2 separate regions of the Homo sapiens genome follow, and region 1 is linked to region 2. Evidence: fine-mapped expression QTL. A gene starts in region 2. The other region holds a variant in brackets. All regions are shown on one strand. Distances are between the middles of the regions.

The links. PIP is the estimated chance that this variant, and not a neighbour inherited with it, causes the effect.
Region 1: its variant is the best candidate, but not a certain one, in a credible set for the expression of DCAF5 in whole blood (TOPMed, PIP 0.85).

The regions. Positions count from the first base shown.
Region 1 is chr14:69,119,486-69,124,485 of GRCh38, forward strand. DCAF5 (DDB1 and CUL4 associated factor 5) reads right to left here. Exons shown (of 9, transcript NM_003861.3): 2 at 2,732-2,875. Among named protein-coding and RNA genes, the nearest start is that of DCAF5, 31 kb to the right of the region's middle. The variant G/A (reference allele first, on the strand shown) is at 2,344.
Region 2 is chr14:69,150,866-69,156,342 of GRCh38, forward strand. DCAF5 (DDB1 and CUL4 associated factor 5) reads right to left here and starts at 2,254. Exons shown (of 9, transcript NM_003861.3): 1 at 1,900-2,254. The coding sequence starts at 2,113. RefSeq lists silencers at 569-1,028, 1,189-1,238, 2,059-2,698.

The sequences.
Region 1 (5,000 bases), 32 kb before region 2:
GATGTAAAAAAAAAAAACAACTGTGGCTACAACCTGGGCAACATAGTTAGACTCCATCTCTATGAAAATAAAAATAAAAAAATTAGCCAACTGGTGGCACACCCTTGAAGTCCCAGCTACTAAGGAGGCTGAGGTGGAAGAATCGCTTGAGGTCAGGAGTTCAAGGCTGCAGTGAGCTACGATCGCACTCCAGCCTGGGCAACAGAGAGAGACTGTCTCAAAAAAAAAAAAAAAGTAGGGGGGAAACAACACAAAACAAAACTGTGGCCATCAAGAAAAACACTAAATGATCATTGACAAATCAATTCACTAGCTTTATTTTTTTTCTTTTTCAGCAGAACACTCACTAATCATGAGACCTGCAATAAAATCTTTAGCATTTCTATGACCTAACTTTTTAACCTACAGAATAGGGATAATAACATCATAGAGTAACTGTAAGCATAAGAGTACATCTGTAAAAGCATTCAGAATAGGGCTGATCACTTAATAAGCCCCCAATAAATGTTTGTTAATATTTCTATCCTCATGGTCTTTTAAAAATGTTTCTTTCTTTCTTTCTTTTGAGACAGGATCTTGCTCTGTTTGTCTTTTAAAAATTTTTCTTCTTTCTTTCGAGACAGGATCCTGCTCTGTTGTCCAGGCTGGAGTGCAGTGGTGCAATCATGGTTCACTACAGTCTTGACCTCCTGTGCTCAAGCAATCTTCCCACCTCTGCCTCTCTAGTAGCTGGAACTACAGGCATGTGTCACTATGCCTGGCTAATTAAAAAAAAAATTTTTTTTGTAGAGATCTAACATGTTGGGGTCTAACTATGTTGCCCAGGCTGGTCTCAAACTCCTGGGCTCAAGCAATCCTCCTGCCTTGGCCTCTCAAAGTGTTGGGATTATTACAAGTGTGAGCCACCATGCCCAGCCTCATCATCTTTTATAGCATGAAAATTTGATGACTGTGATTCCAAATGATGTGAAAGTTTTAATCTTGTATTTCTCCTTATTCTATCAAAGGATATAAATTATATTCATGATATGTGTAGTCCTGCCTTCAAATGGTTTGTATAGCAAAAAAATTAAAACCTGAATATAAGAAGACAAAACATGAAAAAAGTCCCACTCTATGCTAAAATGCACAACCAACAGTCACTTAAATAGAAAGCAAAAGTAGCAGTAAAGATATGGCCCAGGGCATCTTAAACAAAGGCCTGGCTGTAAATTCTACTGTAGGTACAAACCAATGAAATCAGTAAACCCATACTAATGCCTTCTAGGTATCAGGTACAGTGCTAGGTCTTGGGTATATAAAAAGAATAAGATTCTACTCTGTCCTTGAGAACTCCAATTGGACTTGAGAACAGTCCAACTGGACAAACAACTAACAGCAACAAGAGGGTTTGCCTTGCAGCAATATGATCTAGCTATGGGGTCAATTATTTCCTTCATAAGCAGGGTGAAAGTACATGGAGAAGGAGACCTTTGAAGAGAAACTCAAATAACTCAAAACTCTTACCAATGAAAGGCTTAGGGGAATTGGTGGGGACTGGACAATTAAGGTGGAAGAACACCATGAACAAAAGGCACAAGGGCAAAATAGTACCATGCAGTGCATTCTTAAAATGACAAATAGTTTGGTGGGCTACAGTGTATAACTCAGGGAAGGGAGGTCAGGCCAGACAGATAGATTGGGATTTAGACTTCATTCTTCAGGCACTGTAGGCTCAATGGTTCACATGGTCCAGTCTTTATTTTTAAAAGTAAACTTGTGTATGCAATGAATTCAAAGGAGAATTAGAGAGTGGTAACAGAAATCACAGAAGGCCATTGCAAAAATCCAGGCCAAACTAACGGATGAGTATGAGAGGCTTTCAAGATAGACCTGACAGGACTTGGTGACAGACTAGATGTGTAAATGTAAGAAAGGCAGGTTTGAGGATGACTCCAAGATCATAGGTAGAATGAACCATGTGAAACTGCTACTTTTTAAAGTTGAAAATGGTTAATTGTCAGCAATTTCTTAAAGTTAAACCTAATAGCTTATATAATTGGGTGAATGGTTGTAACTGAGAAAGAAAATCCAGCAGACAAGAAGAAATTTTCACTCAGGGGAGGACTAATGATCTTGGTTTTAGATCTATTGTATTTAAGTTGCTTTTGGAACACAGGTAGATATCCAGTGGGAAAATCTGCAGCTCAGAAAAGAGGTCAGAACTAGAAATGTGGGGTCAGAAGGAGTATGGTTGATGGAAGCCATCACCAAGAGGTTGGTGTGAGCACCAGCCATTCCAATTGTACCCTAACACAACACTTTTCAAACAGGAGCCATCTGTGGGTCAGGACATTCATCTGC[G/A]TTATGGCCAGCATAATCTTTAAAAATGAAATCGAATAGAATAAAAAAAAACCAGAGTGTGCCACAAATAGGAAGGTTAAGTATTGTTTCAAATATGTGTGTGTGTCTGTGTGTGTTTCTGTGTACCAGACTGCAATGTGAAAAGTTTTCTGCCAAAGAGAAATAAAGAAAAAGACAGGTGAAGAAAAGCAAAAAAAAGAGAAGAGAGAAAAGACACACACTATCCTAATATATAATACTGCTGTAATGCAGAAAAGACAAGCTATGAGAAACCAGTAATTCCACAGCTCAATGAAATACAGGAAGAAAAATAAGGAGTTATTTTCGCACTCTTTTCTCTAAAATCCCAACCACAGTGACGTTCCCAAGGTAGAATCTCCCTTTTTACCTCCAGAGAACACTTTAGTGTTCCCACTGTTGAAAGCCAGGCAAAAAATGTTGGAATGGTGCTCTCCTTTCAGCTGTATGGGCTTGACCCTGGAGTGGATGGCTTGTTCCATGTGCCATAGCAGAACCCGGCGGTCATCTCCTCCTTAAGAAGGAAATAAGAATCTGTGCTTAAAACAGCTGACATCGCAAGGCTGACAGATGGTTTTGCCAGCCTTGAATCCCATCCTTTCCAAAACTGCACCTCCCCAACTCCATAAGATTCGCATGGAGCACAAAAACCCAGGACTCTCCCTGCTTCACCATCAATAGGCACGTGTTCTCTAGGCCATTCATCTCTCCCAGGAATTGAATCTTAAGCAGACATAGAAAATGAAAGGGATAAGCACTGATATTGAGACTCCTAAAGCCACCCTGTTCCTGTCTTTCCAGAGTTGTTTAAATATTTCTTCATTTGCTACCTAGAACCCCTTCATGGAAGTCCTTTTTTGTTTGTTTGTTTAATAGAACCTGAGATGACTTCCAGGGCTTGCAATCAAAGAACTTTAAAGTAATATTTCTAGCATAATGGTTTTCAAAGCAATCTTCTTGATATGATCTCATTGATTGTGGAACACCATACAAATGATAACTAAGAAATCACCTGACTCTTACAGTAATAGGATCTAGACAGAATATGGCTCAGCCCAGCTCTTAACTCTGCGTAACTTTGGGTCTAAGTTGGTTGTTATTGTTTTTTCCCATTTTTACTTTTTACTTTTACTTTTTTTGCATTGACTTTTTATAAGAAGGCTATACTATTTTCCTAATAAAAATTTAATTTACAACAGCAGCAAACCATAGCAAGCTCTACACCTCCACCTCCCTTACTCCATTCAATGAAAAATGCAGCCACAAATGATAGCACATCCATACAAGGGCATACTATGAAGCCATTAAGTTGTTAGATCTATACAAAAGCTAATGCAGAAAGATGTCCAAAGATACCCGTTAAGGGGGAAAATGAGGTATAAAACAGTATGTAATCCATTTGCATAAAACAAAATTTTTAAAAGCTCCATGACAGCAGAAACCTTGTCAGTTTTGTTCACTGGGAAATACCTGGCACCTACATGAGTGCTCCAAGGAATGAGCATTGACAGTATGCTTATACTCGCATATCTATGCATTGACAGTATGCTTATACTCGCATATCTATGCTTGTATTTGCATAGCCCTATCTAGATGGCTATAAAAGAAGCTGTTTATAGTGCCAACTATAACTGGTAGGCTGGTGTTGGGAGACTTTTTATGGTGGTAAAATATATATATATACATGTAACTTACCATTTTACCCATTTTCAAGTGTACAATTCAGTGGCATTAAGTACATTTGTGCTGTTGTACAGCCACTGCCATTATTCACCTTCAGAAATTTTTCATCATCCCAAACTGAAATACTGTACCCAATAAACAATAACTCCTCCCAGTGCCTAGTCACTGTTCTTTTTTTTTGAGACGGAGTCTCGCACTGTTGCCCAGGCTGGAGTATGCAGTGCAGTGGCGCAATCTCGGCTCACTGCAACCTCCACCTCCCAGGTTCAAGCGATTCTCCTGCCTCAGTCTCCTGAGTAGCTGGGATTACAGGCTCCCACCACCACGCCCAGCTAATTTTTCGTATTTTTAGTAGAGAAGGGGTTTCACTATGTTGGCCAGGCTGGTCTCAAACTCCTGACCTCATGATCCACCCACCTCGGCCTCCCAAAGTGCTGGGATTACAGGCGTGAATCACTGTGCCCGGCCAAGTAGTCACTATTCTACTTTCTGCCTCTATGGATTTGTCTACTCTAGGAACCTCGTATAAGTCAAATCACACAGTATTTCTCCTTCTAGGTCTGGCTCACTCCCTTAGCATAATGTCTTCAAGGTGCATCCAGGTCGTGGCATGTATCAGAATTTCCTTGCTTTCTAAGGCTGAATAGTATTCCATCGTATATATATTTGTATGCATATTTTGTTTATCCACTAATCCATCAATGACCATTTGGGTTATTTCCACCTTTTGGCTATTGTGAATAATGTTGCTATGAACACAAGTGTACAAATAACTTTTTGAGTCCCTCCTTTCAATTTGGGTATATACTGTTGGAAAACTTTTACTTTCTACCTTCCTATACTGCTTGACTTTTTGCCACAGCAGATTTCTTCTTATAATAAAAAATAGAAGATACAGAAGCCAAATCATACTTATTCTCCTGCTCCTAGAAAGAAATTGTCTTTGCTACTTGAAT
Region 2 (5,477 bases):
GCCTGGGCAACAGAGTGATACCCTGTCTCAAATAAATACGTAAATAAAGGTGTGTCAAGCTGGGCAACGTGTGACTACTTACAATTCCGTTAACATGATTAGTTCAGTTGTCTCTAAAAGAGTACCCCCAAACTCCCTCACTCGGTAGGTAAAGTTTACTTGTGTCTGGGAACTTCTCTGTTGTAATACATCGGGAGTTTTATGAATACATAAAAAACAACAGCAGGGAAACTGGGAGCTAGGTCTATAAAGAAGAGGTCTTCCCCCATTTTTGCTCTTCAAATTTATTTGATAAAATTTTATACGGTGCTGTGGGGGAAGGAGGCTTTTGTCTGAAAGATCAGGTTTCTTCAGAGGATGATCTAGGGCCAAAATCTACCTAGTCAAAGAGAAAACGATCTGGGGTACAAAAGTCAAGTCAGTTCTGGACAGACCCCAGAAGGTTTATCATAAAATGATCACAGAAGACCTTTCTCTTTGCTACCCCCAAATTGGACTGTACGCCCCATGTCACTTCCGAAGGTTACTCGCGAAGACGGATGCTTTGCCAAGATCCCAGAAGTTTCTGGCGAGCTGCTCACGGACACAAATTAGAAAGACATTCAGGGACCGACCTGGGTGAAGCTAAGCGCCACGTCCAGCGCTGGGTTCCCCCTTCATCCCTCCCAATATAGGAAAAGGGACAGAAGAGGGCAGCAGCCAAGCAGGAACGCCCAATCAGCCGTCTTCACCCCCCCTCCCCTGAGCCAGGTTTCGGGGAGCCGCCCCCTAGCCCTCACGTAGGCCCATTCCCACCCGCCCCTGCCCTGGGCCCGCGACCCCAGGGAGGAGGGGACGACGGCGGCGAGCGCCCCCACCGGCAGCAGGCGCACCTCCCCAGGGGCAGCTGTCGCCGCGGCCCGCGGGGCCCGGGCCTCCCCGGGAGCAATAGGCTATCGATTCAGCTGCCTGTCGCTAGGAGCCCCGGGAGAGCGAGGCCTACACCGCCCGGCCGGAGCCCCGGCCTCGATTTCGCCACTTTCCCCAAACCAGAGGGAGAGCCCGGGGGCAACCAGGCCCGTCTGGGCGAGAGGGAGGAGAAGCAGAGACCACTTGCAACAGCGGCCGCGGGAAACGGGGTGCGGGGCGCCGGGCTCCCGCCAACAAGTCTCCCGGGGGTCCCCCACCCTACCGCCTGCCTCGCAAGTTGCGCATTCAAGTTCAGGCTGGTGCCCTTTAGCCTCCACAGCCCTCGCCACTCTCGAAACTGTATTAAAAACAAGACGCAGAAGAGGCCACAACCGAACGAAAGGCGATGGTGCTGGGCCTCTAAGAGCGCCGAGGGGGGCGGCCCACAGCGACCCTACCGCCCCAGTCACTTCCCCTCTGCAGACCCCGCCAGCCCCCGGGTCGCAGCCCCCGGCCCCTCGGCGTCCGGGTCTGTCACCGCCCGCTTCCCAGCCCCAAGACCCCTTTTCCTTAACGCCGGCGACGGGGGCTTCAGCTCCCCCTTGCCTCCGGCGCTCCTCGGCCTCCTCACCCTCCACATCCCCAAAATGCCCCCAGCACCTTTTAAAGTACGCGGAGGAAGAGTTTGCCGTCAAACTTTGTAGAGCGGTAACCTCGCCCCCCTCCCCGACCTACACTTTCAGGGCAGGCATCAGGAGAGATCACTTTGCACTTGGGATAAAGCGAATTAAGGAGCTGTCAACCATTTTAGGTCTTTTTTATAGAAGACATCCTCTCCTTCCCCTCCCCCTGCAATGGTTTTAATTTGACACCAAACCTTCCCACCGCAGAAGGGGGTAGAGAAAGGGAGGGGGTGGGGACAGAGGGCAGGAGGAGGGTGACGGGGGAGAGCGAGAGGGGGAGGCTGGGAGGGTGCGGGGAGGCGCGGGGAGGGGAAGGGGGTTGATTTACCTGAGACCAGCCACTGGCCTCCATTGTTGGAGAATTCAATGGCATTGACACAGCCGAAGTGGCCGAGGAGGTCCTTCTTGTAGAGGTTTCTGCAGCCCCGCAGGCGTCTCCTCTGAAAGTCCTGAGTGAGCAGGGGGTCCCCATGCAAGCCCCGCTGGGACAAGAAGCCCACCACTGACCTCATGCTGCCCCCCAGGCCAGCTCTCCTCTTCATGCTGGAACCGCCGCCGCCGCCGCTCGCGCCGCCGCCCCTCCCTCGGCCTCACGCGCGGCCGCTGCTCCCCCCACCCGGCCCTCCCCCCGCGCTGCGATCCGGATGGTTCTTTAACCAGCCATGGCAGGCAGAGCGAGGTGTGCAGACACTCGGCGGCGTTCGCGGCTTCCTGACGGTCCCCTCCCTCTCCTTCCCCCCGAGGCTCCTCCCTCTGCCTCTCCGCCTCCTCCAGCAGCTGATCCTCAGCTGCCGCCGCGCTTCCGCGATGCGCGGCCCTTCCGCCGGCTGCGGGGCCCCGAGAACGCGGCGTCGGCGCCCCTCCCCTCCGCGGGGGGCTGGCCGGAAGAACGCGGGCGGCCGGCCCGGAGACCACGGGCGCCGGCTGCTTTCCCAGTTGAGCCGCTTCCCGCCTGGGGACCTGGGTGGCGCCGGGCGGAGACCCCTCTGCACCCCAGCGCCCCGCACTCCGCGGAGTTGAATGCGCGTAACAATCCGAGTGGCCGCCGGGCTTTGGCTCGCCTTCCTCCCGCGGGGACCCGCGGGCCGGCTGCTGCCCGGAGGCCAGCGCCCGTACGAGTTCGGGGAAAATGCGGCTGGAGTGGGGGAAGGTGCGGGCGGGGGCTCCGGCCCTCCTTCCTCTGCTGGCCTCTGCCTTGGGCAGTCCGGCCCTGCCCGAGGCGGGGGAACCGGGAGGTAGGGCCGCACACTTGGAGGAACGTTGCCTGGGGGTTTTGTTCGCGCACCCGCCCCTTCCCCTCTCCCGGTAAATGTTTAACACCACCGCTCATCCCCAAGTCCAGTTCTCTAACTCTTCCTTCCTCCGGTCCTTTAGTTGAAAAAGGCTAAATTGTTCCGTCTGGCAGATTAGAGTGGTACATGGGGGGAAAGAGAAAGGGATAAAGAAGTAGGAAGAAAATTGCCAAAACCGAGTTGATGAAGTCCCGAGAAGCACGAGGTACTTCTCTCCGTTCCAGATAAATTTGCACGACACAAGAAGCGTGATTTGAAACTAACGATATATGTTATTTAATTGGGTTCGGTGAGCTCCTCTTAAAGGTCTCGAGTGGGGAGCACTGAGGTTGGACAGCTGTTAACCAGCAGCTGCGCTCCAGGCCAGAAGTGGCTGCACTTCAGTAGGATGGGAGTCACCGCGTTGACCCTAGTGGGTGTTAAATGCTTTGGAATTCTACCAGATACAGTTAAAAGTCCCCTTTTCGATGTATTATAGTACTTTTCCTGGAAGCTATCCTCTGTCATTAAGTGGTAATAAGCTACTGAAATAGGCACTTGTCAGTTTTGCCCTTTCAAGTTAGCAGGAATTACATCCTCTGGACCAGAGATGGCACAGGAGCAGTTGAGTAGAATCATCATTGAAAGATGGGCTGTACATCTCTGATCTGGGGAAAATAATAATAATTTTTTTTAAAAAAAAAGATCGGCTGAACATGGAAGAGGTTTACCCGTCAAACAAAATTATTTACTTCTACTTTTTGTTCAGTGACAATACGATTAATCGTACTAATAACAAATATGCAAATGTTTCATATAAAAGTACATATTCTAGCAAACATTACTAAACAGAAACCAAATTCCATCAGAACTTGGGGAAAAGGGCAAAAAATAAATAAATTTTTAAAAGAAAGAAATCAAATTCCAAAAATGTGAATTTTAATGGAATATTGTTCCCCTAAATAGGAAACTATGTGGTACTTAAAAGGTTTTATCCTCAGGATGCCTTCTAATAATCCTTTGTGTTTATTCATTATAATCACCACCTAAAAATTAGTAGCAGTATACCAGCTTTATTAAAGATGTATAGCACCAAACATCCTTCTGTCATTGCAATGTCAAAATGTGTAATTAATCATTTATTTTTGTGATGATATGAGTCTCCCCACTCTGCTGTAAGTTCTCTGAGAGCAGGGACTACGTCTGTTCTGCTCAAGGGTGTATGCCTGGAGCCAGTACTTGCTGGCACTAGTGGCCGCTTTAATACTTGCTGAATTCATGAATGTACTTAGGGAGTGGGGAGGAGTTTGAAGGGAAAGGTCGTGCTTTCCGGTTTGGATATGTTGAGTTTGACCTGTTTCATTCCAGTGGAATCCACTTGTTCCAAGGCCAGTTTCCCTGCTCACTGTTCCTTTGCTTGGCATACTCAGTCCACACATTCAAAACCCCCTCTAACTTCTTCCAGTTAATAGGCCATCATTTATACCTATTTGCCTGGGGTGGGGGAGATTTGTTCGAAGTGGCCTTTACTGTGGCAGTGTATAATACGCATCCTCCTCTGCCCTCTTAAGCACATACCCCCTTTACAGTTTTTACTGAATTCCTGGGAAAATTGTCCCATTTACCTCAGCATAAAAATAGACCAGCATCTGGTCACATGCCAGCCCAAATCTAGGACTTTGCTGGAAACTTCCTTAACTGTTGGGTGACCAACAGTGACAGAAAGGTAGGACCACCTAGTCTGTTTATATCCTACTGCTAGTCTGGCCAGATTTTTATAAGCCTGAATGAAATATCTTCCTATTCCTATAATTAAGAGTTGTCGGATAAAATGGAGGATACCCAATTTGGTATGAATTTCAGATAAACAATGAATGTTTAAGTATACCCCATGAAATATTTGAGATATACTAATATTGTTTATTTGAAACTCGAATTGGGCATCCTGAATTTTTTATTTGCTCAATCTGGCCACCTACTTATAACCAACTTCAAAAGATGAAACTCCATAATATCAATTTGCTTTTACTAGGAATTTAACATAGTCCCTTGTGTCATTTATTGCAAACTAATAATATGGTACATAACTACCTACCACAAACTTTTTTTACCACACCTGTAACAAAATTGCAATACCACAAACATTTAATCAGCTTTGATGACCACATGAGCTTTGTGTTTTTCATATAGGCATTTATAGTGAAAAGGCCAGTGTACTTAGCTTTAAAATAGCAAATGAAATTACTTCTGAGTAAATTGAACCACTGCAGAGAATGTATGGAGGAAGAGGGAGAAGAGTGAAAAACTCATATTTTTCTTTCCTAAACCCAGAAACTTATGTGTATTAACATTCATACTTAGGAAGCCTTGAAACACTGATTTGGAAATTCATTCTGGAAAAACAAAGATATGGAAATTGCTTAACCCAAGAACTCTTAATTGCTTCACCATAGGTTGAATACTGGTCAAATGTAGAATTCCCAGAAATGTATTTACTCTTTGACTTCTATTTTGTTTGACTCCAATATTGCTGAAGATAGAGTAAGGAATCTTTAAAAACTGATTGAATGCTAAGGAAATGCTCAAACATTAGAAACTGTGTTTTTAAAATTTATTTATTTATTTTGAGACAGGG